Linked DNA regions of Homo sapiens. The protein of the gene in region 4 purifies or fractionates together with the protein of the main gene of each other region. This does not show direct contact. Each region holds a gene or a part of one and is shown on either strand. Other genes may lie near its edges. The genes, in order: AP2B1, AP1B1, AP1M1 and AP1S2.

Region 1 (7,122 bases), on a different chromosome or scaffold from region 4:
CAACCTCCTCCTCTCAGGTTCAAGTAATTCTCCTGCCTCAGCCTCCCTAGTACCTGAGACTACAGGCATGTGCCACCATGCCTGGCTAATTTTTGTATTTTTAGTAGAGTCAGGGTTTTACCATGTTGGCCAGGCTGGGCTCAAAGTCCTGACCTCAGGTGATCCACCTGCCTTGGCCTCCCAAAGTGCTGTGATCACAGGCGTGAGCCACCACGGCCAGCCTCTTGAAGATTTTTCTAATGACATCTTTACGAAATCTACCTCTGTCTGCTAGCAGTTGTACCTTGAACGAGTTTTTTCTCTCTCTCTCTCTCTCTCTCTCTCTCTCTCTCTCTCTCTTTCTTTTTAGAGACGGTCTCACTCTGTCACCCAGGCTGGAGTGCAGTGGCATGATCATGGCTCACTACAGCCTCAAACTCTTGGGCTCAAGTGATCCTCCCACCTCAGCCTCCCAAAGTGCTGGGATCATAGGTGTAAACTGCTGTGCCCAACTCTGTAACCAGGTTTTTCTAACCTCCTCCATTCCTTATGATTTAACCCAGCAGTATAGTTATCGATTTGGTGATGAAATTTGGGGAATAGGTCTAGGCTAGAGATAAGAGATTTTGGAGCCATATATGTAAGAAAGATAATTAAAACCATGGTATGCTAAAGGGTTAGTGTAGAGAAAATGTATGAGTATAGAACTAAACTTGAAAAAATTGGCTGAGTTTGGTGGCTCATGCCTATAATCCCAGCATTTGGGGAGGCCAAGGCAGGAGGATCACTTGAGCCCAGGAGTTGCAGACCAGCCTGGGCAACATGGCAAGACCCCCTCTCTACAAAAAAAGAAAATTAGCTAGGCGTGGTGACACATGCCTGTAGTCGCAGCTACTTGGGAGGCTAGGTAGGAGGATTGCTTGAGCCTGGGAGGTCAAGGCTGCAGTGAATTGTAATGGCACCACTGCACTCCAGCCTGGGCAACAGTGCAACACCCTGCCTCAAGAAAGAAAAAATCCTTGCCACTGTTTTCCTCAGATACCATTTCTGCTTTCTTTGGTCATACTTTCTTATGAGTTATCTGCAACTCCTGTTTTTATTTCCTCATTTCTAATCCATCCTCAAACATCTGCAGTATGACTTTTGCCTTCATATCTCTACTGATTTCTCAGCAATAACATCAAATACCTCCATGTTACTAAATCCTGTAGACACTTTTTAGCCCTTCTCCTGTCTATGGCAACTAATATTGTTGATCACTTATTTATGCGTTTAGTCAACATATATTAATTTGTGTGTGTGTGTGTGATGGGGCTAGCCTCATGTGTGCAAGAGTGAACAGATTGGTATAGTCCCTACTTTCATGAAACTCTGAAAACATCCTAAAATATACTATTCTGCTTTTCCTCCTACCTCTCTGACTACTCCTTCTCAGTCCTCTTTGCATTCTTGGGTTTATCTGTTTCTACCCCAAGCACTCACTCTCCACATTCTTCATGAATAATGTTCATGCCCACAGATTGAATTATCATCTGTATGCTCACAGTTCACAAATTTAACTCCAGATCATTCCTTATCTTCAGACACATATAATCAAGTACCTCTTGGGTAGAGATCTTCACTCTAACCTAACGTATAAAATGAACTCATCACCTCCCTATTCTTCCCCAAACTTCTGCCATTTCTTATATTTTCCTATTTTCAGTGACTAGTACCACCGTTCCTCCCTTGCCCTAACCTAAAACATAAGCCTTATCAGCCCTAGTGTCAGACTTCCTGGGTTCAAATCTTAATTCTACCTTTGTGTGTGTGTATGTGTGTGTGCGTGTCTGTGTGTGTGACTGCAAGCTCCGCCTTCCAGGTTCATGCCATTCTCCTGCCTCAGCCTCCTGAATAGCTGGGACTATAGGCGCCCGCCACCACGCCCTGCTACTTTTTTTTTGTATTTTTAGTAGAGATGAGGTTTCACCATGTTAGCCAGGATGGTCTCGATCTCCTGACCTCGTGATCTGCCCGCCTCAGCCTCCCAAAGTGTTGGGATTACAGGCGTGAGCCACCGCGCCCAGCCATCTTAATTCTACCTTTTAACTTCTCTGTATCTCTTAAAATAGAGGAAGTAATAGTACCTACTTGGTTATCAGGTGGTGCGGATGTAAAAATGTACTTAGCAGAGTAACTGACATAAAATCATAATAAATATCAACAGTTATTTGTTTAAACCACCATCATCGTGTGGCTGGATCATGTCAACAGTTTCCTGAGTGGTCTCCCATTAGATTATGAGCCCGTGATGGTCCCAAAAGGTGAAAAGAAGGGAGATTGGTCCATACTTTCACCCAAAAGTGGAAGAGAATGAAGTTGGAAAAGCTTTCGGATTGATGCTATATTTTGAAAATAGTATTGGTTCATTTTTCCTTAAAATATATGCATTTTTCAGAGAAAGGAATGGAAAATAAAACAAATATAAAGAAGATAACATTTGTAATCAGCACCCAGAGGGAACCACTAATAGGTATATATACTCCTCTGGATTTAGAGTTTTGTATCTTTTTTTTTTTCTTATTTCAAAGCATTTTTCTGTATCATATTTTTCAACAATATGATTTAAAAGGCACATCCCAACATAGAAATAAATACATGTTCATTGTAGAACACTTTGAAAAATACAGAAAAATATTAGGAAGAAAAATAAAACTCTCACTATCCTGCAATAACCACTTTTAACGTTCTGCTGAATATCCAAGCTTTTTTTTTTTTTTTTTCTTTTGAGATGAGTCTGGCTTTGTTACTCAGGCTGGAGTGCAGTGGCGAGATCTGGGCTCATTGCAACCTCTACCTCCTGGGATCAAGCCATTCTCCTGCCTCAGCCGCCTGAGTAGCCGGGATTATAGGCGTGTGCCACCACCCCCAGCTAATTTTTGTTTTTTCAGTAGAGACAGGGTTTCACCACATTGGCCAGGCTGGTCTCAAACTCCCGACATCAGGTGATCCACCCACCTCAGCCTCCTAAAGGGCTGGGATTGCAGGTGTAAGCCACCACGCCTGGCCTATCCTAGCCTTTTTTTTCTATACATATATAGTCATACTGTATACTGTATTGTTTGGTGTCCTTTTTTTGCTTAACACTTTATGAATTTTCTGTCATAAAATATTCTATAACATTATGCAGCTATCTGATTTACCATAACTGTTTGCATTCTCTCACCTTATACCTGGCTTTCTAATTTCCCCTATTCCCCTATTTTAATAACAGAGGAAATAATAATACATGAGTATGTTATACAAAATTTTAATGTACTTCTGATCACTTTTTTAAGAATGAAGTTTTAAAATACTGAAACACTTTTTGACTCACAGAGTTCATAGGCAAAATGTGAGAAAAATCATCACTTTGCTCTCCATCCTTCCTTACACCCTGAAATTAACCTTAGGGACAGCTAGTTCATTTAACATCATCAATCTTGTTCTCCAGTTCCAGGTCCTGGAATCTAGCTCTTAGTGTCCGAAAGAAACTTACTTTTGTGTAAGCACACCTATTATATACTAGGCACTTTACCTAATTTATCTGGTTTAAACTTCACATGCCCGAGAGAGATACTATCATTGTCTTCATTTCACAGATAAGAAGGTTGATGAGACATTAACTGTCTCAGTCACATTCAGGGTAGGGATTCAAACTCACATCCAATGCCTCCTCAACCTCTTTTACGTGCAGCACTATCCTCTAGCCCCACTGCCCGTATATAGGCCTGGGCTATATCACCATTGTCCGCCCTTGAGCCTGGAAGGAAAATGAGCTGAGGGGTTTTGTTTTTTCAGAAAGGAACAGGATATTTCATCATCTCTATGTTTACGTTTTTCAGAGAATTTCTGTGCGAGGAAACAAATCCATTGTCAGCTTTTTAAAATATATCCCTTTGGAGTAGCCACTTAACATCCTCTGAGGCCCAGATGGGCTAGCTTGCCGGGACCAAAGGAAATCTTTGGGTCTGGAAGGCGACAAGAGATCACAGGCTTTCTAGGTCTACCGCGCACCCCGATGACGTCACGCGGCGACGTTCTCTGACGTCAGAGTTTCCTGCCCACCATCTTTGTCCCTGGCAAAGTGGGTTTTGCGCAGTGGCTTAGACCTAGAAAAGAATCGTGACGGGCAGGAAACCATTACACCACCACCTGGGCTGTGCTCTCCGGCTCCCGCCGCCACCCCCGCCCTCGCCTTCGCCTCCGCCTCCGGTGAGTTCAGGGCGGTTGCCTTTAGGGTGTGTCCCTAATTGACGGGGTCGGGGACGGAGAGAAGGGTAACACCAGGCTGGGTCGGAGACCGGCGGAGGCGAGGAAATCCTAAGAGCGTGACCGTTGATGATGCAGGGAACCGTCGGGTGTGACCATTGAGAGGGAAAAGGTTGGAGAAAGGGTCTCTACCATGATGCCTGTGGTGCGGTGAGGGAATCCTCGGGTGTGGCAGCAGGTAGTTGGGGGCAGGAGGGGAAGATGTGTTTCGGAATTGAGGGTTTAGGGGGACCAGAGGCCAGGGGTGTGGCTGATAGAGCCTGGAGGCCGTGGGGGGAACCGTCTTTCTTCCCCGCTCGGCGTCGTTCACTGAGAGGCTGAGACGTGTCCAGCAAGCCAAAGGGAAAAGGGATTCCCTCAAAGGTTTGCTCATTGATGGGCGAACGTCGTCTCTCGGGTAACTTGAGGGTAAGAGACAACCTCTTCCCTGCTCCGTAATGGAGGAGCATATCGCTAGAATCTTGACCACCTGGGGAAAGAAGAGGCATTCCTTACTCTTGGAGGAAGGAAAGAGTAACCTCCAGAATTGACCCGATGTAAGAGAGGGGGAAGCAAATGGGGGCAAATCTTAACCCAGCATCTTTTTTTTTTTTTTCTTTTTCTGGGCTCTGCAGTAATGGTCTGGTTTGGGAAAGGCTGTAGATTAAGCTGAAAGTAAAGAAACTGGAACGTCCTGTTATTTCCTTATCATTTGAATCCAAATCATTTGTTCATGCTGCTTGTTTTCAAGAGTAGTCTTCTATTGGAGGGGTGGGGTGGGGGGGGACAGGCCTTTATTGAACTCACGCGGATGCTTCATTAAACTTTTGACTTTTATTTTATTTTATTTTTGTATTTTTAGTGACAGGGTCTTACTGTGTAGCCCAGTCTGGTCTCGAACTCCTGGGCCCAAGCGATCCTCCCGCTTCGGCCTCCTAAAGTTTTGTGATTACAGGCGTGAGCCAGCGCGCCCAGCCAAACTTGACTTTTGAGAAGAAAAAATGTTTTGAAAACTGCCAAAGACTTATCATAACCATTGTGGTTTAAAAGAAAGTAAATGCATTAAGCTTAGAAAGGCAGAATGACTAAGAAAGAAGGTGGTCTCAATGAGAATCAATTTAAATGATTAGTTACCTTCCTTGTATACTTCAATTGCTTAGCCTCAGGGTACACTTACAAAGTAGTAATAGAAAGCAGCAGATGAAGGAGGTGCAGCTCTATAAGAAAACGTGTTAAGACATTCCAGTGATGACTAAGCGTGCTGGTAAGGTGAGAACTGTTTGCAGTATCTTAGCCGTTGAAACTTTCAAGGAAGCAGAAAGGATGATGTATAATGCAAACATCCTCACTAAAAGCTGGGTGGTAAAATCAATATAAATCTAATATTCTGACTGTGTATGAAGAAACTCAAGGAAGTCCAGTTCTTTCATTCTTTCTTTCCTTAAAAGATCCATATTTTGAAATACTAACTTTTTAGGCACAGGTTTGAACGAAGCTGAGCAAGGAATATATTAAATAGGGCACGTTCTCCTTTCTCTTGTCCTTTCTTTCCTTCTAGCCTTAGGTTTTCCAGAGTTTAATGTTATTTTGGTTAAGAATTAGATGTAAAACTTTTGAACTCCTTTGCTTCGTTATAATATTAAGAAGCTACTTTGTAGTCTGTTATGTTTAAATAGAAATCACAGGTGATTTTAGCTTTTGTGTCTCATAATTTCTTATGAGCAAGGTAATACCTGATGATGCTATTGTCTTTGCATTATTACTGAATATTTGATTAGAAATGAATTTGGCACCTCTCACCTTTATAATAAAAGATTACTGGAATGACATTTCTGCTTTATAATTTGGTTAACTTTGGCCAGTTTTTCACTATGAGCACTGAGCTTTGTAAAGTCCCACTTTGTGAAAAGAAGGGTTTAGTGACTTTACAAACTAATTTAGCTTCCCAGAGAGCCATTTGAATTAAGACCCTATTAATTTTTTTCTGACCTTATTCTACCCAAGGTATTAATCTTATTTTGCTGCTCAGTTTCTCTTTTGGGGAACTGGAGGGAGATATAGGAGAGGAGGGACTTTGACAACCTATATTTGGTAGAAACTAGGTTATGTTAAATCTGGATATATAGTCCTGTGCAGGGAGGCCTTCTCCGAAATGCAGTGACATCACACTCTGGTCGAGGGCAAGTAAGAGTGATTATGTGCTTTGACTCTGGCAGCTTTGTTGTTTAACAGTGGCCTTAGGCCATACCGTAAATCCTCAGAACAGCCGTTACTTGTCTGGTTTGATCTGGTAGAAAGGTAGTGTGAGTTCAAATTCCATCATGGCTTTGCTTATTTCTCTGGCTCTTCTGAAGGAACATTTTCTCCCCCCATAGGAGCAGCTTGATTTTTGAGGCACTTCAGCAAATATTAGATTTTTTTTTTCTTTAGCTCTATTTTGTTTACTTTTTCTGTAACTTCTTTTTTTTTTTTTTTTTTTGAGACGGAGTCTCACTCTTTCGCCCAGGCTGGAGTGCAGTGGCGCGATCTCGGCTCACTGCAAGCTCTGCCTCCTGGGTTCACACCATTCTCCTGTCTCAGCTTCCCGAGTAGCTGGGACTACAGGCGCCCGCCACACGCCTGGCTAATTTTTTGTATTTTTAGTAGAGACAGGGTTTCACCGTGTTAGCCAGGATGGTCTCGATCTCCTGACCTTGTGATCCGCCCGCCTCCCAAAGTGCTGGGATTACAGGCGTGAGCCACCGCGACCGGCTGTAACTTCTAATGAAGACGTCAGTTTTTGCCATCCTGTATTTTGGAGACTCTGGCTATGTCCATATCTAGCATGTGATTAAGTGTATCTCTCATTATATGAGGTGAGAACTCATTATATGA
Region 2 (7,000 bases), on a different chromosome or scaffold from region 4:
CTTCCCATTGGCTGCCCAGGCAGGGCTAGAGTCTGGAAGCCAGATGCTGGGCTGCCTCCTGCCTTGGAAACAGCCAGCCTACTGCTCATCTGCTGCTGGCCCCCATGTAACCAAATTGCAGACTCTGGTTCACCCCAGAATTGGAGGACCACGTGCCCTCCATTCTGCCTGCCTCTGTCAGCCTTCCCTGCACAAGTGCCCTCCTGCTGGGCAGGTGCCAGAGATGCCGTCAGCACGGCTGCTGCTGGGCTTCCTGCACTGCCACTCCTGCCCTCCTGCTGCAGACCTGTCCCTGGCACAGCCTATGGGCTCCCACTGCCCCTGACTCCGGGAGCATCAGGCTGCCCCCTTGTCCTAGGACTAGCAAAAATGAGACCGTGACTAAGGAAGGATTATGTGCAGAGACTTGTTCTCGCATAGATGTTTCTTCAGTCAGCAAGTATTTCTTAAGTGCCTGCTATACACCAGGCACTAGATTGGGCAGTAATTAGTGACACGACAGTAAGCAAGACAGACATCACTCCAGCCCACAGGGGGCTCACTGTACAGGATAGCCAGCAACTGGTGGCGCTGTGACGGGGTGGAAGAGGCTGCAGAAGCATGGGGGGTCTGGAGGTGGGGTTGGCATGAGATCTGAAGGGTGAGGAGGTGTTGGCCAGGATGAGGGCAGCTTTGGGTATGTCCAGGCATGTGGCAGGGGCCGGTGGAGGGCCACCAGGAATAGTTCCAACCCTCTGGTAGAAGCACAGGTCCTTGACGGCAGGCTCTGTGGGCCCTGCTGCCCCAGTCCCCTGGGCCTCCATGGGACTGTCGCCACTTGTTGACAGATGGTCCTGATAAGAAGCACTCCAGCCACACATGTGAGCTTCTCATAGTTCTGTGAATTCTAGAGCTCCAACAGGTTTCTAAAACCCTAGGGCTGGGCAGCGGCCCCTGGCCTACTTGGGTTTGCCAAATAGTCCAGTATTCAGCTCCTTCCTGAGTGAGTGATGCCGAGGTCTGGCTGCTCAGCGGCACCAACACTTGTGGCAGCCCTTTGCCTGTGTGCCGTGACAGCCCCAAACCTAGAATAGCTATGCTTGGCTTCCAGGGACTTTGAACACCCTATTCCTCTTCAAGCCTTTTTGTTCTCCCTCTATCCCCATGTGAGGCCCACACTTCCTCCTCGTCACCGCTGTTCCCTGCAGGTCCAGCTGCAGCTGCTGACAGCCATTGTGAAACTCTTTCTAAAGAAGCCAACAGAGACCCAGGAGCTGGTGCAGCAGGTCCTCAGTTTGGCCACTCAGGTGGGTGCCCCAACCTCCCCGCTGTGCCCAGCATAGCCCTCACTCAAGCAGGGGAACTTTTGTCCCAGGAACTAGACCTGGAAGCCAGGCCCGCTCCTAAGACAGGTATCTTGTGGGTGGGACTGGCTTCCAGCCCCAGAGTTACCCAAGCTCCCTGCCTTCAGGGTGCTTAGAACACAACACAAAGTGCAGTGAGGTCAAGTAGTGAAGTTGAGACAAACTAGACAGAGGAGGAGGGCCCATGGAAACCTGAGGGTGTGTGTTGGGGGCAGGAAGGGCAGGCCACAGAGGGCGGTTGGGAGTAGAGACAGGCATGGCCAGGCTGGAGTAGAGTACCATGGGGAATGAGCCCGGGGCCAGGGCATGGCCCTGTAGGTGGTATAGGGGCAGGCTCATGGGAGCACTCAGGACTGCTGTCCCCATTGGCCACCCCTGTGCCGCACCTGGCTCATGGCTGCAGGAAGGTCTCCTCCCTTCTCACCTGGCTACTCTGAGTTTCATGGGCTTCTCCTCACCCCCACAAGGACTCAGATAACCCAGACCTGCGGGACCGTGGCTACATCTACTGGCGCCTGCTGTCCACGGACCCGGTGGCAGCCAAGGAGGTGGTGTTGGCTGAGAAGCCACTCATCTCTGAAGAGACGGACCTCATCGAGCCCACACTGTTAGACGAGCTTATCTGCTACATCGGCACGCTGGCTTCCGTCTACCATAAGCCTCCCAGTGCCTTTGTGGAGGGGGGCCGGGGCGTCGTGCACAAGAGCCTGCCACCTCGCACGGCCTCGTGAGTGAGACTGGCCAGTCGGCCTGCGCCTTCACACTCTGCTTCCCCAGTTTAGCAGCACAGGCACTCAGGCCTGGCGTGTTGTCCCCCAGCAAGACCTGAGTCTGAGGAAAACTGACAACCTTTTATCAGCTATTTATTGTACACAAGGTATTTGCTAGATGACCTCATTCCAGCCTAACGACAGTGCTGAGAGCAAATGTCCCCATTCTTCAGGTGGGAACAAGAGACAAGGAGAGCTTGAGGGACTGGTCCAGGATCTCACAGCTAGCAGAGCTGGGACTCAGACCAGTTCTGTCTCATTCCAGATCCCTGTCTGCGCCTCCTCCTCTGTTGTTCCCAGGTGGTTGGTGTGGCCTGGTGGCACCGTCCTAGGGCACTGGCATCCAGTTTTCTTCTTAGCATGGGCTGAGGGCTAGAAGCAGGCGGCCCTCTCCCTTCACTCATCCTCACGGAGGACCTGAAAGATGGACCTGCTGTGGGAATGGGAATGGGGAAGAAGTGGGGCCGTGTGGACAGCCCTGTCGGGGACAGTGAGGAGACTCAGTGCCTGTCCTGGGGGACAGCTCTGCCTGGAGGCTGGGGTCTCTTTGACCTTCCTGAGACATCCTGATGCCTCCACCCTACTTCTGTGTCCCGGCAGGAGTGAGAGCGCAGAGAGCCCTGAGACAGCCCCTACTGGAGCACCTCCTGGGGAGCAGCCAGATGTCATCCCCGCCCAGGGCGACCTGCTGGGTGACCTCCTCAACCTGGACCTCGGCCCCCCAGTGAGCGGCCCACCCCTGGCCACCTCCTCGGTGCAGATGGGAGCTGTGGACCTTCTTGGCGGTGGCCTTGACAGCCTGGTATGTTGTGGGCCCCCTCTGGATGATGTTGATAATGATCCTCAGAGGAGCAGTCACTGAATGCCCCTCCATGCCAGGCACCAGCTGAGTGCCTCAGGTACATTATATAGAGTCCTTACCATTTACCCTTGGAGGTGATTGTGTAGCTCCCTACTTATGATGAGAAAACCAAGGTTTAGAGAGGCCAGGCAGCCTTCCCTCCGAGGTCGCACAGCCCCTGAGAGGCAGACAGGATTCCACTCCCTTGTTGAACCTTCGAGTCCCAGGAGACCCTGGGCAGGGAGGCGCATCCTAGCCCTTGCCCTGATCCTGGCATCACAGTCACCTTTGCCCTGTAAGGCTAGGGTGTTCCTGGCTTTGAGGAATCAGACTTGTGTCCACTTACCCTTATGCAGCGCCAGCTGGGAATAGCAGCCCATCCAGGCCTATTTGAGAGGGCATGGGAGGCCGGGGAGAGAGGGGAGTGGGAAGACAGTAGGGAGGGGAGTGGTGAGACTGACTTGGGTATCTCCCTGGGGCTTCCTCAGGCAACTGGCAGGACCATGTGTGGGGGCGCCTAAACCTCTTCATTTGGCTGTGCTCGGCTCAGGTCCGCACGGTGGCAGCACGGGGGCAGGACACTGGTGATCAGTGCTGCTAGGGTGAGGCAGGAAGGGCTGTGGTGCAGGACAGGTGTTGGGGTAAAGGTGTGGGGTAGTGCCTTTCATAGAGACAGGGTCTGGGCCTCTCGCCAGACCTCACACCACACTCCTCTCGGATGGAGCTACCGTTGACTAATCTCCCTCTTTCCCTTCTCTCTCTTGTTTCTCTGTCTTCCTTCCTGGCTTTTTCTCTCTGCATGTGGCTGCCTGTTCTCTTCACCTGCCTGCTTCTGCTTGGAGATGGGGGATGAGCCTGAAGGGGTATGGTTCAACCCTTGCGTCACCAAGCCTTCGTCCTTGCTCCTCCCGAAAGCGCTGGCCCAGCATCCCAAGGGGCGGGGGCGGGTGATGTCACAGCAGCCTCCACCTGCTGAGCCCCTGCCTTGGTCCAGCATCCTGGCAGCCTCTGTCTTGACCACCTGGCATCCGGCTGCCACTGGGCCCCATAGCCATGGATTCTTGCCCAGTCCTCACCACCCCATGACACGTCGCCTTGTCATCGCGGGGATTGCCAGCCCTCAGTCCCACAACCCTTCTCTGATGTCCTGGAGGGAGAGCACCCATCTGCGTAGCATGTCTCCACCCAGCCGTGTGTCTTGGGACCTCCTTTTATCCATAGGCTGAGCGTCAATTTGGGAGTGTCCCCAGCCCTTTCCCAGAGGTTACTCCTAAGGCTCAAGGCTTGCAGGGCACGGGAGGGCTCAGCCTCTCTTCTCCACCCACCTCTCTCTGTCTTGTTTCTGTAATTTAGAGTTGATATGGAGGCTGTCCTGCCCCCTGCCCCCAGTGTCTTCTAAAGAGCCAGGTGGCTCTACTCATTCCCAGACCCTGATGTCTTTGCCTCTTGACGCCCACCTCTGACTCTTTCCCTCCCTTTCCAGATTGGGGGCACCAACTTCGTGGCACCTCCAACAGCAGCAGTACCAGCCAATCTTGGAGCACCCATCGGCAGTGGCCTGAGTGACCTCTTTGACCTGACCAGTGGCGTGGGCACCCTGTCAGGATCATATGTGGCCCCCAAAGCAGTAAGTCACTTGTCTTCTGTCTTGGCGGGAGCAGAGAGAAGTTATGGAGACTGGCATGTGGGCTCCTTTAAATGGCCTCGGCTGTGGAATTGGCTCAGGCCAGCAGTGATGAGGGAAGCTGGGGGCCACAGGGGCACCGAGGAAGAGGAGCTAAGTCAAGCTTGGTGGGTACCTAGGAAGGCTTTCCAGAGGAGTCGCAGGACCTCAGTAGCTGAACAAAAGCGGATAGGGGCTCCAGACCAAGGGAACAGTCTGTGGTAAGGCCTGGAGGGAAGGGAGACCACGGCCTTTGTGAGGGAATCAGCAGAGGCCTGTCAGGTGGGAGCAGTAGTTCTCAGTGCCATCAGACTCAGCACCCCTTAGTCATCATAGACATTTTACATTGTCACCATTCCTCTCCTTAAATGCAATTGGTGGGCTGTGTAACCTACCTACACATAGCATTCCAAAAATACTCAGATGCTTTCACTGCATGGAGGAGACATAAAAGGGAGAGAATACAAGTGTATGTATCAATGTTATAAACGTCTGGGCACGCCTGCCCGCTCACCCCAGAAGACATGAAGTTGCCAGGTGTTTGCTGCAGGGCAAAGTCACTGTGACTGTGGCAACCACAGTCTGGGTGTTTGTAGCCTGGACCCCGTGAATGGTTTGGCCAGTGGTGCCATTTGTTTCTGAAGTGGTCACTGACTCCCAGTAAGGTTTGGAGTAAGATAAAGAACAGGCTTCCCTCGATTTTCCTGAGAATTGTGTTCCTGGAAGTCTCAGGATATGTTGAAACCATGCAGAAAATACTGGAAGGATGCAGGACAGTTGCTTGTTGTGGGGTGGTTGTCCCCATGGTAGGATGTCCAGCATCCCTGACTCCAGCCCACTACATGTTATGCCACCTGAAGATGCCCACAGATGCCCACTATGCCACCTAGGGCACACCCCCAAGACTCCTGGCTAGACTAGGGATCAGTGAAGGAGGAAGCTGGCAAGGCTGGCGGGCCAGGCTGAGCGTTTCTTCTTGATCCTGGCACAGCCGGAGCCATTGGAAAGTTTTAAGCAAAGAGATGAACCAGTCTGATTTGCACTTGAGAAAGATGGCTGCGTCTGCAGGGAAGGGGTGGGGCAGAAGCACCGGCCCCGGGGGATTCCGTGGCAGGGAGGAGGAGTGCTGGGGCAGCTGGACCACGGGGGCTCTTGTGGGTGGAAACAGCGGCCAGACTTGAGAGCTCCCTGGGAGGGAGGAGCCGGGGCTGAGGGAAGGAGAGTTGAGTTTGGGATGTGAGGACATGCGGGCCTGGCACTGAGGAGAGCTCAGTGTGGGCCATGTTGTCAGTGTCAAGGAAGCTGCCAGAGGGGACCAACCAGGCCTGATCCCCTCATCACACTCAGATCAGAAGTTGTGTTTGCCAGAGCTCCCCTCTCTCTTCTGAGGTCCCCACCCCAAAGCAGGATACAGTTGGCGGTCAGGGGCAGTGACAGCTCTGTCATGACTAGGGAGCCATGAGCCAGCACCTCCCCACCCCCTGAGCTGGCTTTCCCCACCATATGCCAGCTGCACCTGCAGTGGTGGTGACTGGAGCCCCTGGCAGGGTCTGGGCACTGAGAGGCCCACAGCAGACAGCAACTCGGACACTAGTAGCCGCACACTTCCTTGTAGGGACAGCACAGCATTCCACAGCCACCGCCAGCACGTCCTCCTCCCAGCAGCCCTTTGTGGCTCTTCCTCCTATTTCGTGGTTGAGAAATCCTAGTGCTTTTGCCTAAGGTCACATAGCTGGTGACAGAGTCTGGAAGTGAAAGCAAGTGACACTAAAGCCTCTGCTCCAGACCCCTATATGATGGTCCCCACAGAGCGTGAGAACCACCTGTGCACCTGCCTTCATGCGTGGGGTGTCAGGGCCAGCAGGGCCACGGGAACGTAGAATCGCGGCATAACGTACAGCATGTGCAGTTGACTTACTACCTGGATTAGCTGCACCAAGGCATGAGGCCAACTCGTACTCACCAGAAGCCCAATATCACAGGCATACAAAGCAGGACTAAGGGACAGAGAACAGCAAAGACTCCTGTAACCCTGTGGGTGCCAGCCCTTGCCAGGCACTGCAGAGCTGCCAGGAAAAATAAGCCTGGAGCTGGCCTTTGGCAAGCTGGCACTAGGCTTGTGTGTTCATCTTTTTTTTTTTTTTTTTTTGAGACAGAGTTTTGCTCTTGTCACACAGGCTGGAGTGCAATGGTGCGATCTCAGCTCACTGCAACCTGTGTCTCCGGGGTTCAAGCGATTCTTCTGCCTCAGCCTCCCGAAGTAGCTGGGATTACAGGCACCTGCCACCATGCCTAGCTAATTATTTGTATTTTTAGTAAAGACAGGATTTCACTATGTTGGCCAGGCTAGTCTTGAACTCGTGACCTCAGATGATCCACCTGC
Region 3 (7,029 bases), on a different chromosome or scaffold from region 4:
TCTCAAGCTCCCAACCTCAGGTGATCCACCTGCCTCAGCCTCCCAAAGTGCTGGGATTACAGGCATGAGCCACCGCACCCAGCCCTCAGATATGTTTTTGTCATTTTACTCTTCCTTCAGGACTCCAGTGACATGAAAGACCTTTGGTTATTATATCATGTGTCCCTGAGGCTGCTTATTTTATTCTATCTTTTCTTCTCTCTGTTAGATTGGATAATTTACATTGAACTGCCTTTAAGTTCACAGGTCCTTTGGCCCTTTCCTGTTTATCTCCATTCTGTTATTATTATTATTACTATTATTATTATTATTTTTTTTTTTTTTGAGATAGGTTCCCACTCTGTCATCCAGGCTGGAGAGCCATGGAGCAAGCATGGCTCACTGTAGCCCCAACCTCCTGGGCTCAAGCGATCCTTCTGCTTCAGCCTCCTGAGTAGCTGGGACTACAGGTGTGCACCACCAAGCCTGGCTAATTTTTAAAAAAAAATTTTTGTAGAGATGAGGGTCTCTCTGTGTTGCCCTGGCTGATCTAGAACTCCTGGGGCAAGTGATCTTCCCACCTCAGCCTCCCAAAGTGCTGGGATTACAGGCATGAGCCACTGTACCTGGCCTCCATTCTGCTATTAAGTCCATTGAGCAAGTTGTTTATTTCAGTTACTATATTTTTAAAAATTTTCCATTTGATTCTTCTCTTTTTGTTTGTTTTTGTTTTTGTTTTTGTTTTGAGACAGGGTCTTACTCTGTTGCCCAGGCTGGAGTATAGTGGTGCAGTTATAGCTCACTGCAGCCTCAACCTCGTGTGTTCAAGTGATCTTCCCATCTGAGTGTGCTGAGTAGCTGAGACCACAGGCACGCACCACCATGCCTGGCTAATTTTTTTTTATTTTTTATTTTGTAGAGACCAGGACTTGCTGTGTTGCCCAGGCTAGTCTCGAACTCCTGGTTGATTCTTCTTTATCATCTGTTTCTTTGCTGAGACTTTCTATTTTAACATTTGTTGCAAGCATTTGCAATTTTAAAAATAGCTGTTTAAAGTCTTCATCAGATAATCCCAACATCTGTGAAGTGTTGACAGTGGTTGATTGGGTTTTCCAGGCAAGTTGACATTTTCGTGGTTGTTTGTATGCTGAGTAATTTTGGATTGCATCCTGGACTTTTTGAGCATTATGTGGTGATACTCTAGGTCTTATTTAAGCTATATGGGAAATATTGATATTTTTGTTTTAGCCAACAGCCAATCTTACTTTCAGGCCACAAGTTCCAATCCCCAACCTGTAGGCCATGAGCATCACGTCAGTTTTTAAAGCCCCCGTGCCATTTCCTGGTCAGATCTCCTGGGCGTGCACTGCCCAGTGGTCATTCTGGGACCCGAGTGGTTAGTTCAGTTCTCAAACTCTTTCGTAAGTCAAACTATGGTATATGCACAGGATTCACAGATGCTCGATTCTAGAGAGTTCTGGAGACATAAACCACTTCATGGGGTGACTTTCCTGAGCTTCTGGCTCTGTGCTGTCTACCTGGTACTTTTCTGATTCCTTGCGGTTTACTGTTGTACACGTCTGCCATTGGGCCCACTTCCCAGCCCACATGGAGAGAGGACAGAGAGAGAAAAGGACAACGGTTGCCCCACCCCCTCGGAACAGTAGCTGGCACCACAGGGCCTGGGGCATGAGGAACAGGGGAGATGGGGGGCTTCTGTGTTTTCCAGGAGAGTCAGGAGTTCCTCTTCTGGCCCCAGAGCCAGGCCTGGAGGCTCTGCTGAGCTCTCGTGTGCTCTGTGGTGCACACTTCTGCTTCCAGATTGCTGCTGCACTTTCTCGTGGGGGGCGGTGGGAACACTCTGCATTCGTGGCTCTTCCCTGGTCCACCTGCTGCTGTCTTCAGTCTTCCGGCAGCTGCCAAGCCTCCTGCCCAGGTTTCAGAGCTGTAGTCAGTGGCAGGGGAAGGGGCGCCAGCCGACCTGCCTCACCAGCCGCTTGCTTTCTTTTGTGTTCACGCTGGCCTCATCCCTGCGGTGTGGGTGGACTGTATGGGCTCAGCCAATCCAGTCATGCAGGTCACTCAGGTCCCGTTTCTGACGGCCACTGGCAGTGCAGCATTGAGCACGCTTGCTCAGCCCCAGACGTGTGCACTTGGGTGTCTCCGTGACCTGGGCCAGGATTTCTGGAGGACTGAGGCTGCAGACATGGAATTGCCAAGGAGAGTGCTGCCCAGAAAGACTGTCTCGCGCACTCCGTGCAGACCTCTTCGCTTTCTTACTTTCCGGGACGGGACAGTGGCCTCGCTAACCACATTCCCCTCTCCCCTGGGGACTCTTGTCTGATTGTTTATTGAGCCGAAAACAGGGTCCATCTGGGTGCTGTGGGGTGCAAAGGCAAGTCCCAGGGGGCAGCTTAGAGAGAGTCGAGCAGGAAAGCGCTAGGGCTGCGGGGGTCCCCGCCACAGTGCGCTGCTGCATGTGGCTCCGCCCGGAAGGATCCCACTCCTCCAAACAGGTCAGCACAAGGGCAGCTGTCAGGATGCCACCTTCCTAAGTGGCTTGCAGAGCTGGTGGCTGGGTCAACATTTGCCTCCAGATGCGATCATCTGAGTGCAGCCTGGTACTTACACAGCCGGGCCCTGAGCAAGCATCCCTTCAGCACCCGCCCTGGGAAGGGCACCGGCTCTGCGTGGCTGGTCACACCTCAGCTGAGAAGGTTCTGATTGCTGCCCGCAGGGCCGAGATCAGCCTCGTGGGCTGGGCAGCTTTTCAGCTCCACTCCCTGGGCCTGCTCTCGCGGCATTCACGACCTCATGTGTTCAGTTACAGCTGGCTGCCAGGGCCAGTCCCAACTCCCTGAGGGGGAGGCAGCACCCAAGGGGAATTAGGGGCCGTCACAGTGGAGTGGAGGGCCCTCCGAGAAAGAGGCAGGCAAAATCCCAATGCTCGGGCTCCTGGAGCCCCGGCCAGTGAGGGTCCCGAGCTCCTGAGCCTCCGCTTGCCCACTGAGCACCTCCTGCCACACACGCTGTTTCTGGTGCTGGACACGGCAGCGCGCAGCCCCACGTGGCTTCCCCCAGCAGGGAGAGAGAGAGAGAGACAAGCAGGCAGACGCAGGGAAGCTGTTGTGCACCATGGGATCAGGGAGCCGCTTGCGAGATGAGGACAGGACAGCACGAGGAGGTGAGGCTGGGGAAGGTGACAGAACCGGAGCCCTTGGGGCCATGTCCGGTTCCCTGCCCCTCCCAGGGCTGTCATTTGCTTGGCACCTCAGTTTTCCCAATTCCCTCAGAGGCGGCAAGCTGGTGAGGGGCTTTTGTTTGTCTACCCAGTGCTTTTTGGACATCATGCATAAGACTGCACAGACTCTCCTGCCACTCTGCAGACAGGAAATGCAGGCCCTGCACATGTTAGCCTGGCTGGAGCCAGCATCTGGGCCCAGGTATCCAAGTCGGTGGCCTTTGGCCCACTTGCTGGTGTGAGCATGGCCTCGTGCAGCATAGCAGTGTGCAGTGGTGGCCAGGGCTGCAGCCCCAGCGATTCTTCTGCCAGTCACTCTGTGCCCTCAGCACGGGGCCTCTGATCTGTGCCTGTTTCCTCACCTCTAAAATGGATGCAAGAAGAGATGCTCCAGCATCTTGGCTCACGCAGGACAGGCTAGGGGGTGCAGGACCGTCGCCCCGGTGTGGATTTTCAGTTGCACTTTCAGATGCATCTCGGCATGCGCAGTGGGTTACAGCCCCTCAGGTCATCTCCCCACAGTCCCTGCCCCAGAGGTTGTCGAGGCGTGTGTGGAGCAATGCCTGGCGCAGTGGAAATGCTGTCAGTGTTAGCCACTGTGACTGGATTTAAGTTGATTATTTTGGATCAAGTGTTATCACACTTCAGGGTGGCCCTGAGAAGCAAGAAGGGGTCAGGACTCAGGAAGCACCATCTCTCATAAGCCCTGGGGGGTGAGGGGCCAGTGGCCTCCCTGGGAGGCCAAGAGGAGAAACAGCTTTCAAGAAAAGCAAGTCTGGCCTGGTTCAAGAGACCCCAGCCCAGCCCAGCCCATCGGCTGAGCAGGGACCACAGGGTCCTGGCCCAGGTCCAGCCGAGCTCATGGACTCTCAAAGCTGACTCAGCGTGGGGACCAGCTGCCGGGCCGGCCCGGAGCATTCAGGGGGCTCCTGGGAGGGAGGGACTGGTACCTGATAGAGAACCCTCAGAGGGGGCTCCAGGCACGCATCATCAGGTCCCAGTGTGGCCTGAGGCCTAGAGGGCAGGACCCACAGTGTCCACCTCATGTCCACAGGGCCTCGGCATGAAGGCTGGAGGGGTGAGCCTGGGGACCCTCAGCCAGGCGTGGGTTGGTGTGGGTTAGGGGTAGACCTTAGCCACAGCTGGGACTCTCCCAGCTCAGGGGATGCCCAGGAGAGGGATGGGCTTGGAGGTGAGAAGGGCGTTGAGAGTGGGGTGGCCAGAGGGTCACATGATGTGGTAGGAGGCAGTGGCTGGTGAGTTGGGGACCTCCCCTCACGCCCACACCGCCACCCCCAGGTCAGCGCCAACGGCAATGTCCTGCGCAGCGAGATCGTGGGCTCCATCAAGATGCGAGTCTTCCTCTCGGGCATGCCCGAGCTGCGCCTGGGCCTCAACGACAAGGTCCTCTTTGACAACACGGGCCGTGAGTACCCTTGCCAAGGGCCCTGCCCATGAGGATGGCCTCACCAGGCACACACATTACAGCCTAGGGCAGGGTTGGGCCAGGCGGAGGAACGAGCTGGTTTCAAGCACTTGGTTGAGCAGCACTTCACACTGCTTGAGACAGCTGTGTAGAGTATTCATCCTTCCCTGGACATAGAAGGTGCAGGGGAGTGAAGATCCTCCAGTCCAGCTGGGAGGCCCCCGTCACCCGGCCTCACACGCCAGGTCCTGCACCCTGCCCTGCTCTGCCTGGGGCACTGGGGCCTAGGCTAAGGCCTTGCTCTCTCCCTCCCAGGCCAGGTTTCTCCCCTCACCTTGGGCCCTAGGTGTGGGCCGTGTGAAGGCCACGCATGGTGATTCTCGCTCCCGCCGCCTGGCCTCTAACACTTCCCACAGCAGGGCGGGGGCAGAGGGGCCCAGGGCCTGGTTTTGTGAACTGTGCCTCCCACTCAGCTGTCACAGGCCACTGGAAGAGGGTGCAGTGGCTGGGCATGCCCCCGTTCCTAGCCCGGTGAGGGCTTCTCGGGCATCAGTCTATCAGGGCAGCTCCCCGCCTGGGGCTGGGCAGGGCCCCACCCACATAGCCCTCAGTGAGGTGGCAAACCAAGGTAGGACCCAGGACCCCGTGGATGCCAGGGCCTGAGCCCTTGGGGAGCCCCGAGCCATCCCCCAGCCAAGTCCACTGATCAATCATTCAGTGAACGTGTCCTGAGCAGGTCCCCTGGCTGGGCCCTGGGATGGCCGCTGGGGACTCAGCATGAACCAGACCCACCAGCCCTGCCCCTGGGGACCCCAGGGGTGTGAGGAGTGATGGGGCAGTTGTCTTGGGACCCAGCCCCCTTGGTGTTTGTGGCCCAGGCTGCTCTCAGTGCGTGGACTGGGGGCCCTGCTCTGCCGGGGTGGGTTGCAGGTGGTAGGAGTACTGCTGAGATAGTGACCCGGAGGGCCCAGATCTGTCCTACCCTCACCCCTGACCCCAGGCGGCAAAAGCAAATCCGTGGAGCTGGAGGATGTGAAGTTCCACCAGTGTGTGCGGCTATCACGCTTCGAGAATGACCGCACCATCTCCTTCATCCCACCCGACGGCGAGTTCGAGCTCATGTCCTACCGTCTCAACACCCACGTGAGTGCGCCACCCTGGGGCTGGGCTGTCGGCAGACTCCTCCTCCCCTTCACCTCCAGGAGGTGAAGCCCAGGCAGGCGCCAGGGCCAGCCCCACCCCACGCTCCATGAGCTGCCTGGCTCTGCAGAGATGGAGTCTGAGGACTTGGGACTCCGAGCTTTCTGAGGGGCACAGACCCCTTTGGCCACCACCACCCCTTTCCCAGGCAGCCCCCAGAGCAGGCCCTGGTCATGTTTTCTGCATTTGCCCCAAGGCCTCCCCGGTAGCTCCCGGCTACCTCGGCCTGTCTGCCCTGGCCCTCCCTGACGCTGGCTGTACGCTCCCTGCAGGGCTCTGGGCCCACACCTGGGCAGATGGTCCCTTGCCCTGGGCCTTGGTTTCCCCTCTGAAATGGGCCTTTGTCAAACAAGGCCAGGTGTGAGCACCCTCTTTGCCCTCCTTGGCAGGTCAAGCCTTTGATATGGATCGAGTCGGTGATCGAGAAGCACTCCCACAGCCGCATCGAGTACATGATCAAGGTGCGTGGGCCGAGGCCACCCACTGAGGGCCTTCTGGTGTCTCTGGCCCGTCCCAGGAGCCTAACCGAGGGCTGGGGGTGCCGTAGGGCTGCCATCCGTGCACCCTCACTGTGGCCTCAGATGCAGGAGTGACCTGACACTGAGGGGACACCGCCTGGGGCCTGCTCCTAGATGGTGCCACTTGTGGGGAGGGGCCTGTAGCCAGGCATCCAGGACACTCCCAGAGGTGTTGCCCCCAGGTGGAGCACCTCTGCCCCTCAGCGACCCTGTCCAGCGCAGCCTGGCCCTGGGACATAGACATTGTCCTAGGAGGGCAGGGCAGAGGGAGGGATGAGGAGCCTTGGAAGCTGAGCAGACAGGAGGATGAAGATGAAACTCCTGAAATTAGGTCTTGGGAGAGTCTCGAGGGCAGGAGAAGGGGTGGGTAGTGCCTGGAGAAGTGGGGCCAGGGGCGGGGCTAGGGAGGATCCCCCGGGCCAGGCTGAGGGGCATGTGTCCTGGAGAGGCTGGCCAGCTCACCTTGGCCTCCATAACCCCGGGCCGCATTGGCCTGGCCTGCAGGCCAAAAGCCAGTTCAAGCGGCGGTCAACAGCCAACAACGTGGAGATCCACATTCCCGTGCCCAATGATGCCGACTCACCCAAGTTCAAGACGACGGTGGGGAGCGTTAAGTGGGTCCCCGAGAACAGCGAGATCGTGTGGTCCATCAAGTCCTTCCCGGT
Region 4 (7,898 bases):
AGGTGAATATAACTGGGAATATTACTCTTCTAATGTTCTCGGGCTTAATGAGGTCAGCGATTAAAAAAATATTCAGATCTCAAGTTTCCTTTAGACCATGAAAATTATATCACAACTTTCTAGTTGGATATCATAGCTTTTTGTGGTATAGAGCAATGGTTCTCAAAGTGTGGTTCCCAGACCAGCAGCATCAGCATCACCTGGAAACTTGTTAGTAATGCAATTCTCAGGCCTCATCTCAGACCCCCTGAATCAGAAACTATGGGAATGAGGCCCAGCAACCTGTATTTTCACAAGTCCTCTAAAAGAATATTCTAGAACCACTGGTTTAGCGATTTGGAGTTGAGTTAGATCATTGTTGAAGCATTTCACTTCAAGGATCAAATCAAGACATTATTTGAAATCGTTTGTTTAAAACATACAGAATCTCTCTCTTATATTGCTGTGAATTAAGAGTGACATAGAAATTCATCGAACGAAAATATTGCGAAGAGCCCTGGGAGGTCATGAGAGCACATAGTTTTCAAACGTGTTGGTTACAGAAATCTAAGGTTCTATGAAGCATCTCTAGGGGTCTCCTAAAAGAAAATGTTCATACGTTTGGTTGATGACTATCCTTTGACCATCCAGGGTTTGTCTCTAAAAGACTAGAAATTCTGTGTCAGAAGAAATGGAGCTTTAGGACCAAGTCAATATCTTATTTGTCTTTATATCTTCATTACCTTCCAGAGTGCCCCAGCATAAAGTAGATACCTAACAAACATTTACAATGTATGTATGGATGGAATAGGCATCTCATGGATTCAAGTGCTTAAGTAACTTTTACTAATATTCTGGGGTCATTTTTTGAAAATCAGTTTGGATAGTTTATTCTAGTTGCTATTAAAGAATACTGACTGCTTTATGTATGCCTCCAGTCTTTTAAGCAGTTAAGGATTTTATCTAGCAGATATTAAGAATAATGGCTCCAACTCTGAGAAAGAAAGAGAGGGAGAGAGAGGGAGAGGGAGGAGAGAGAGAGAAAGAGAGGGAGAGAGAGAGAGAAACTTATATGAAGATAATGTTTGTTCCATTTCTTGAAATGTCTATAAAAATATGCTACTGCATGTTAATATTTTCAGTGACTAACCCAGGATTTCTTCCTGAACCTTGGCACTAGTGACATTTGGGGCTGGATCATTCTTTGCTATGGGATCTCTCTTGTATGTTGCAGGATGCTGGGCAGCATCCCTGGTCTCTGCCCACTAGATGCTGGCAGCATCACCTACTACTCCTAGTTGTGACAACCAAAATGTCTCCAGACACTGACAAGTGTCCCCTGGGAGGCAAAAGTGCCCAGGCTGAGAATCACTGCTCTATCCTAATGTTCATAGGGCAGTAGTAATTTTCCTGCATTTTATTCAAAGCTATGGAAACAGGCTTCGAGAAAGAGCATATGTTCCACATTTCTCTTTAGCTCATTGTTGAGGACTTTGGCAGTGACAGCTCTATCTATTTTGAAATGATTTGGTTCACAAATCCTCATTATTTTAGGCCATTTTTCTCCCTGGAACAACTTTATCTTTGGAGATGCAAATTCACAAACTCTAAACATCTTTTTTACACTTTCTGTGATCTACAAGGCTTCAGCACTGAATTCCATTATTGGGCATTTTTATTTAATAATTTCTAAATAATCTATAGACTGGCTAAAGGAACTCTGTATAAGTCCATAATACAGAGCTAGCAACTAATGGAATGGTTTTTATCTACCTCCTTACAATATTTTAAAAAATTATTTAAGAAAAAACCTAAGTAAAATGTAATAATACCCTTTATTACATCCTACTGCAAGATTCTGTCCATGGAAAGAAATTCACCATTGCTTCTGGGATTTACTTCCTGGTATCGAAAGAATATGCTAATAATTCTAGTTCGTGATTTATTTTAGATGTTATCTATTTTCTTCCCTTTAGCACATGAGGATTTAGCATTATTTCAACCTTCCCTCACTTCTGCTCCTCCATAATATCAATATATGACAATTTTTCTTTAAATCATCAGTGTTTAAATGATGAGCTGACAGTGTATCCTGACATCCTTATCGACATCCTCATGTAAATGTTCCCTCTCTTATTTTCCACGTGGGTATGTGTTTTAAATAGTCCCTTTAAAAAAAATTAATGGTATTTTGAGACAGTGAGAGGATAAAAGTATATGGCCATCACACATTTAATAGGAAACTAAAATTATTTTTGAAAACTTTGGAAAGATTACATAAAAAGTCTCAAAATTTTATCGTTAGAAGGTAAAGATTTCTATTTTCCCCTCACCTCTTACATTTAGCATAAATGACAGTGAAGCATTTTTTTCAAATTTAAGAAACAAGTATAAAATCTGATTTTTAGTTTTTCATGAAACGAATTTTGTATATAATTCTTGTATCAATATTAACACCAATAAATCAGGACCATCTAGAAAACAAAAACAGGATTAAAAAAGATAACCAATTGACATGACGGATGAAGAAGACACTAGGTGAGAAGAAACATGTATATAACAAAGCCTACAATTGGGAAATTGTGGGAATCAAAGTCAAGCAGTTAATTACTAACAAAGATGGCAACCATGTTTCTTTTGTCTTTCACAGTGAATGCATAATTAGCACTTAATACTAAGACTAGGGAATAAACCATCTATAATCTATTGAAAAAGACCATCTGCTTCTATAAATTTTGTTCTCATACACTTGCCAAAAGAAGAGAACATATTAACAAAATAATGGGCCCTGCACTGTTAATTGCTAGGTTGTTTGCAGTTGTGCTGTTGCTATTAGAATTTAATAAGCCATTCCTTCTGCTAAATTAATAAGCAGCCAAGATTATGTAATAGCTGCTTTCAGCTGCTAATTATTTTTCCCACAATTCCTTCCCCTCCCTACCCCTACCCCCACCTTTTTTTGGCTAGGAGCAGGAAAGGAGACTGCCAGTATGTCATCAGCAAGTCTCCCGTCCTCATTTTCAGAGCAACATTAGGAGCATAATCAGAGTTTAAACTTGGAAGTGGCTATCTCAGGAACCTTCAGGATATAAGTGTTTTGTACAGAAAAAGAGAAAAGCAGCATTTGGATTCAGAGGGCGAGTTTTCATTGTGTAGCATTAGAGCTATCTTTTAACTGGTTAATGGCATCTGTTTCTTGTAGTAAGAGAGAAATGGGACATTCGAAAGCACCTTTGGGGCATGACTAGGTAGGGAGAAATCTGGTGGGGGCGAGGGGGACCTAAAGAACTACAGAAAGCCAGCTCTGTGCCGTGTGTCGTCCCCTTTCTTTAATATTCCAGTATACATTAATCATACATGTTAGTAGGAAACTTTCCAAGCAGCACAGTAGTGCTTGAAAAGGGGAAGTATTACACATTTCTTTTTGTTTTGTCATACAAAAGCATTTTTTAAAAGCCCCCAAAACTACTGTCTTAGTTTCATAGATACTATAATGTACACAAAAAGAATATAATCCCTAATAAAGGATTCCTTTACATTGATTACATTTAGCTTCGTGAAAATTTTAGCATTTCTTTTTTTACTTTAGGCCATTAAAAAAATTCTGGCGACTATACTTAGGAACCTCTGCAAAAGGGGCATGGCCCAACAAAAGCAATTTTCTCGCTTCCTTTGTAAGAACCTAGGTGACTCGGGTAATGAATAGCATTTCGATATGGGAAACCCGTGGCTCTTCAAGGAAGGTCACCTAATCCCGTGGGACTCCCCTTTCCTTATCTGTAAATGACTAGATGATTCATCCATTCTATCATTCAGAAAATTATGAACATCCATTATGCCCAGGCATTACGCTCAGCATTACAGCTCTTAACAAATTTATCATTTTATAGTCTTTATCAGTCAACTCACATTTATTAGTTGTTATATACCAGGCTGTGAACTAGATTGAGATGCAAAATGAATACAATTTAAGGTGTGCTAAATAAAGGCTAACGGGCATGTGGGTGAAAGAGGGAATCGCTCTTACAGGGTTTTAGGGTGAGGCTTCATAGATGTGACATTTGGGAGCAAGGACATGCCAGGCACAGCAAGTCGTCGGCAGTGCTAAACTGGAACCCAGGCGGCTGGTGGGGCGACCCAGTGTGAAGGAAGCGGGATCTCGAAGGTGAGGTGCTGTCCGGGCTTTTCAGCCGAACGGACGGTAACTCATCCAGTCCGCAGCACCGAGGATGGGCGAGGCGAGCCCAGGGAACAGACTCCCGCGAAGCTCGGGGCGGAAGGTGTCTGGGCTAGGGCTGGAGCAGTGCAATGGGAAGGAGAGGGCGGATTCCGGACAATTTTGAGGCAGAATGATAGCAAAAGGCCCGTGAATGCGTGACGAGCTCCACAGAAGAGCTGACTTGTTTTTCCAGAGTTGCAGCACTCCCTCGTCTCCTCCCACCCTCCTCGTCAGCCGTCACACTTCACACTTCCTCTCTGGGGACACAGAGAATCATTAGAGCTCGAACGTGGCTCTTCGCTGTCCGGAACTTCCCTGCCCCGCACCACCCGCTAGGCTAAGGACGCTGCAGAATCCCGTCCTCCTATCATTAAACAAGCAGGACAGCCGCCCGCGCGCGTCCCGGAGGCACCTGCAAGAGCGCGCGGGCGCGCGGGCGCTCGGGCCCGGCAAACGCCGCTTCCGGGTCACGTGGCCCGGCTTCCGGTTCGCACCTCCCCTCAGCGAAGAAACCTCCAATCGGCTGCCTTGGACTCAGCGGTTACCCGCGCTGCCTCCGGTGCCGCTGGCGACCGCTGAGCCGCTTCCCGCGCGTCGCCTAGCCCGCCCCTCAGCTCGCCGCAGCCCCGGCTCCTCCCTCGTCCGGCCCCCGGGGCGGGGTCTGTCAGCTTGCCCTCCCCTCTCCGCCTAAGCCTGCCCTATGCCAGCCGGGTGTCCTCCCCACAGCACCACGGCTTCTCTTCCTCAGCACGGCGACAGGGGCTTCCCCTTCGCCGCCGCCGCCGCCGCCGGCCAAGCTCCGCCGCGCCCGCGGCCCGCGGCCGCCGTAAGTCCCTGGGGGCGAAAGGGGGCGCCGGGGATGGGGGAGAGGGGGAGGGAGGACTGGGCGCGCCCCCCGCCACCCCGCGCGCGCCCCGACGACCCCACCCCGAGCCTGCCCGGCCCGCCACTGGGTCGCCGCGCCCGCAACTCACTTCTCTCCGTGTCCGCGCCCTCCGCACCACTCCGCGCCGCGCCCGGGGATGTGGGGGCCAGTCCCGGGCTCCGCGACAGCCTCGCGGCACCTGTGGTTCGGGAATCGCCTCAAGTTTTGCGGGGCGCTTTCGGGAGGGGCCGGGGGCGGTGGCGGCCGAGGACTCTTGGCGCCCCCTGCGCGGCGGCGGATGCCATTGTCTGCTCCGCTCCTTGCCTGTCACCTCTCCCGGGCTTGGTCAGTGATGGAGTGTGGCCACGGGAGTGGGGGGGAGGCACCGGCGACGGCCGGACCCGAGGAACGCTGGCCCCGAGCCCGCGCCGCGGCTGAGCCCATTGTTTTTAATGCCAGTCTCGAGGAATTGTGGTGCCCTGTGATTTGCGGCAAAATCAAAGCGTTGGTTTTTAACACGAGGGAAGGAATACTCGTGCTTTGCAACCGGGTTTCGTCCCATGTTAGGACATAATTTATTTTAAGGAGAATACATTGTTTTTTCGTCCTGCAAAGTGGTAGGGCGGATACAGGACCCTGCTCCAGACAGCCTTGAGCCCATACTCTTCGCAGGCAAACCCTCACCCTTTCTGGTCACCAAGATCTAGGAATACGAGGTCCATTCTTTTCCAAGTTCTGGTAACGGGTTTGCAGTAAATGCCCAGTTGATGCTTCACTTCCTGCCCCCTTCGAATGCCGCTATCTTCAGGACTTGCACGGGAGGCACTTTGGTATCACCTAATAATGTCCTTATATTTTGTTCCCCTGACGCATTTTAAGTGAGGTAATAAGACCATTTTAACTTTACTAAAGTTGAATTGCCACGTCATACATTTCTAGATATCTTGTTGATACCTTTTTGGGTGGTTACAAAAAGCGACGATAATTTCTTACCGAAATTTAGGGCCCATTTTTATTCTACATTGGTTCTGTAAATTTCCCCTCCCCGTGTTCAAATTCAAGATGGTGTGGTGAATCTTGAGAATCATGCTTGAATCTTATTTGCAGTAACGCTGTTAAAGGAACTTAACAGTGATTAAAAGAAAAAAGGATACCTATGTGAATTCTGCCTTTAAATTACCTTTGTAGAAACAATACTTCTGTTTGCAGTTGAGATGACCAATTGGATTACAAAAAGCTTGGCGTTAAAAATGAAACATGCAGACTAATCAACACATTTGCAGATCACAAATAAATACATACAAATTAGTTTAAGTATAAAACACACTAGAATTCAGCATCCATTCCATCTGTAGATACTATTTTTTATTTTAAATGAAGTATTTCATGTAATGTTTCAATGCTGAATCTTATTTAATAAGTGTAAATCTTATTGTGGCCTTTTAAACGTTTGTTTTCTTTTTCATAATACATTAACTCAGTTCTAGATTTTGTACATATTTAAGTTGGAATGCTTTAAAAGTCAGATGAAAACATACTTTTTTATTAATGAAAATTTGTATTTATGGGATTTTTCAGTTAATATTTTGGATCATTCTGTTTTGCTTAAAATATGCCATCATAAACTGAGGAGAACATTCCAAGACATAAGCTACTGTCTGCAAGTAATTCACCCTGGAACTAGAACGGCCTCAGGATGAAAAATAGCAGGTCTTCTGTTTCTTTCAAAAGTACCCAAACCAGATGATGTCTACCATTCTCTTTTGATGCATATAGAGAGTGCGCAATGTATAGCACAGGTAGAAAATAGTTTCTTAAATTGAAAGAGTGATCTTTATTTTTCTTCAAAAATTTCACTTCAGCTTATTACCCATTTTTCTTTTTTCTCCTGCACACTCCCCTTCAAACTTAATGTGGAACAAGGTGGGATTGGAAGGTTTGCATCTAGAGGAAGATCTGTCCAAAAGAATTTCTTGCTATTTTAATTGGCATAGAAATATTGATGGCTACTAATCATTTGTCATGTAAATGCCCCATCCCCCAAAACTTCTCTGTGAAACACATAATCTTAACTTTATTGATTCAAAGTATTACATGTAATCTTGATTTTATTTATCTTAACAGATGCAGTTTATGTTGCTTTTTAGTCGTCAGGGAAAGCTTCGACTGCAAAAATGGTATGTCCCACTATCAGACAAAGAGAAGAAAAAGATCACAAGAGAACTTGTTCAGACCGTTTTAGCACGGAAACCTAAAATGTGCAGCTTCCTTGAGTGGCGAGATCTGAAGATTGTTTACAAAAGGTATAATTTTTGTTTGTCAGAAAGGTGAAATAGAATCAAATGTTAGGTCATTTAGGAAATTGCAGACTTCAGTGATGACATTTATAAATAACGATTAATAAAGATTTAGATGAAATAGGTTTAAGGTAAAGCTTTGTGTTTTTAAAATAACTAGTGTTTTGATTGATAATTACTGAGGCTGAAATGATAAAGGCAGGGAAATCCTTTGAAAACTAGTTATATAATTAAAGGCATAAATGATTATTCATGCTTAATCATCTTTATAGAAGAGTTTAATGAATTCATTTCATTGCAGGGGAAAGTAGGGTCAGTATTTTAAATTGTGTGAGTAATTCTCTGAATTGAGACAAGTACAGATAGAGTCTAATTCTTTTTCCCCGAAAATCTATAAAGTAATGACTAATATTTGACATGCCTTTTATCTGATTTTTAGAATCTTACTCACGTGTAAATACCTTGACTATGTAGACTATTTCAATCACATAGATGTTTTAAAAACTTTGTGTATACATGAGATGTGTTTGTAAGTAGT

Evidence for each region.
Region 1: the proteins of AP1S2 (region 4) and AP2B1 purify together in Homo sapiens (affinity purification with mass spectrometry; 4 studies listed by BioGRID and IntAct, with this or other methods). This does not show direct contact.
Region 2: the proteins of AP1S2 (region 4) and AP1B1 purify together in Homo sapiens (affinity purification with mass spectrometry; 6 studies listed by BioGRID and IntAct, with this or other methods). This does not show direct contact.
Region 3: the proteins of AP1S2 (region 4) and AP1M1 fractionate together in Homo sapiens (co-fractionation; 7 studies listed by BioGRID and IntAct, with this or other methods). This does not show direct contact.

The regions. Positions count from the first base shown.
Region 1 is NC_000017.11:35,583,217-35,590,338, forward strand, and holds the start of AP2B1 (AP-2 complex subunit beta), read left to right. Parts: upstream 1-4,105; 5' UTR 4,106-4,212; exon of another isoform or gene 4,213-4,447; intron 4,448-7,122. UniProt on the Homo sapiens protein: Component of the adaptor protein complex 2 (AP-2). Adaptor protein complexes function in protein transport via transport vesicles in different membrane traffic pathways.
Region 2 is NC_000022.11:29,336,571-29,343,570, reverse strand, and holds part of AP1B1 (AP-1 complex subunit beta-1), read left to right. Parts: intron 1-1,187; coding exon 1,188-1,286; intron 1,287-1,810; coding exon 1,811-2,070; intron 2,071-2,713; coding exon 2,714-2,915; intron 2,916-3,796; coding exon 3,797-3,817; intron 3,818-4,437; coding exon 4,438-4,581; intron 4,582-7,000. UniProt on the Homo sapiens protein: Subunit of clathrin-associated adaptor protein complex 1 that plays a role in protein sorting in the late-Golgi/trans-Golgi network (TGN) and/or endosomes.
Region 3 is NC_000019.10:16,221,902-16,228,930, forward strand, and holds part of AP1M1 (AP-1 complex subunit mu-1), read left to right. Parts: intron 1-4,519; coding exon 4,520-4,646; intron 4,647-5,646; coding exon 5,647-5,789; intron 5,790-6,235; coding exon 6,236-6,307; intron 6,308-6,868; coding exon 6,869-7,027; intron 7,028-7,029. UniProt on the Homo sapiens protein: Subunit of clathrin-associated adaptor protein complex 1 that plays a role in protein sorting in the trans-Golgi network (TGN) and endosomes.
Region 4 is NC_000023.11:15,851,814-15,859,711, reverse strand, and holds the start of AP1S2 (AP-1 complex subunit sigma-2), read left to right. Parts: upstream 1-4,898; 5' UTR 4,899-5,024; intron 5,025-7,187; coding exon 7,188-7,366; intron 7,367-7,898. UniProt on the Homo sapiens protein: Subunit of clathrin-associated adaptor protein complex 1 that plays a role in protein sorting in the late-Golgi/trans-Golgi network (TGN) and/or endosomes.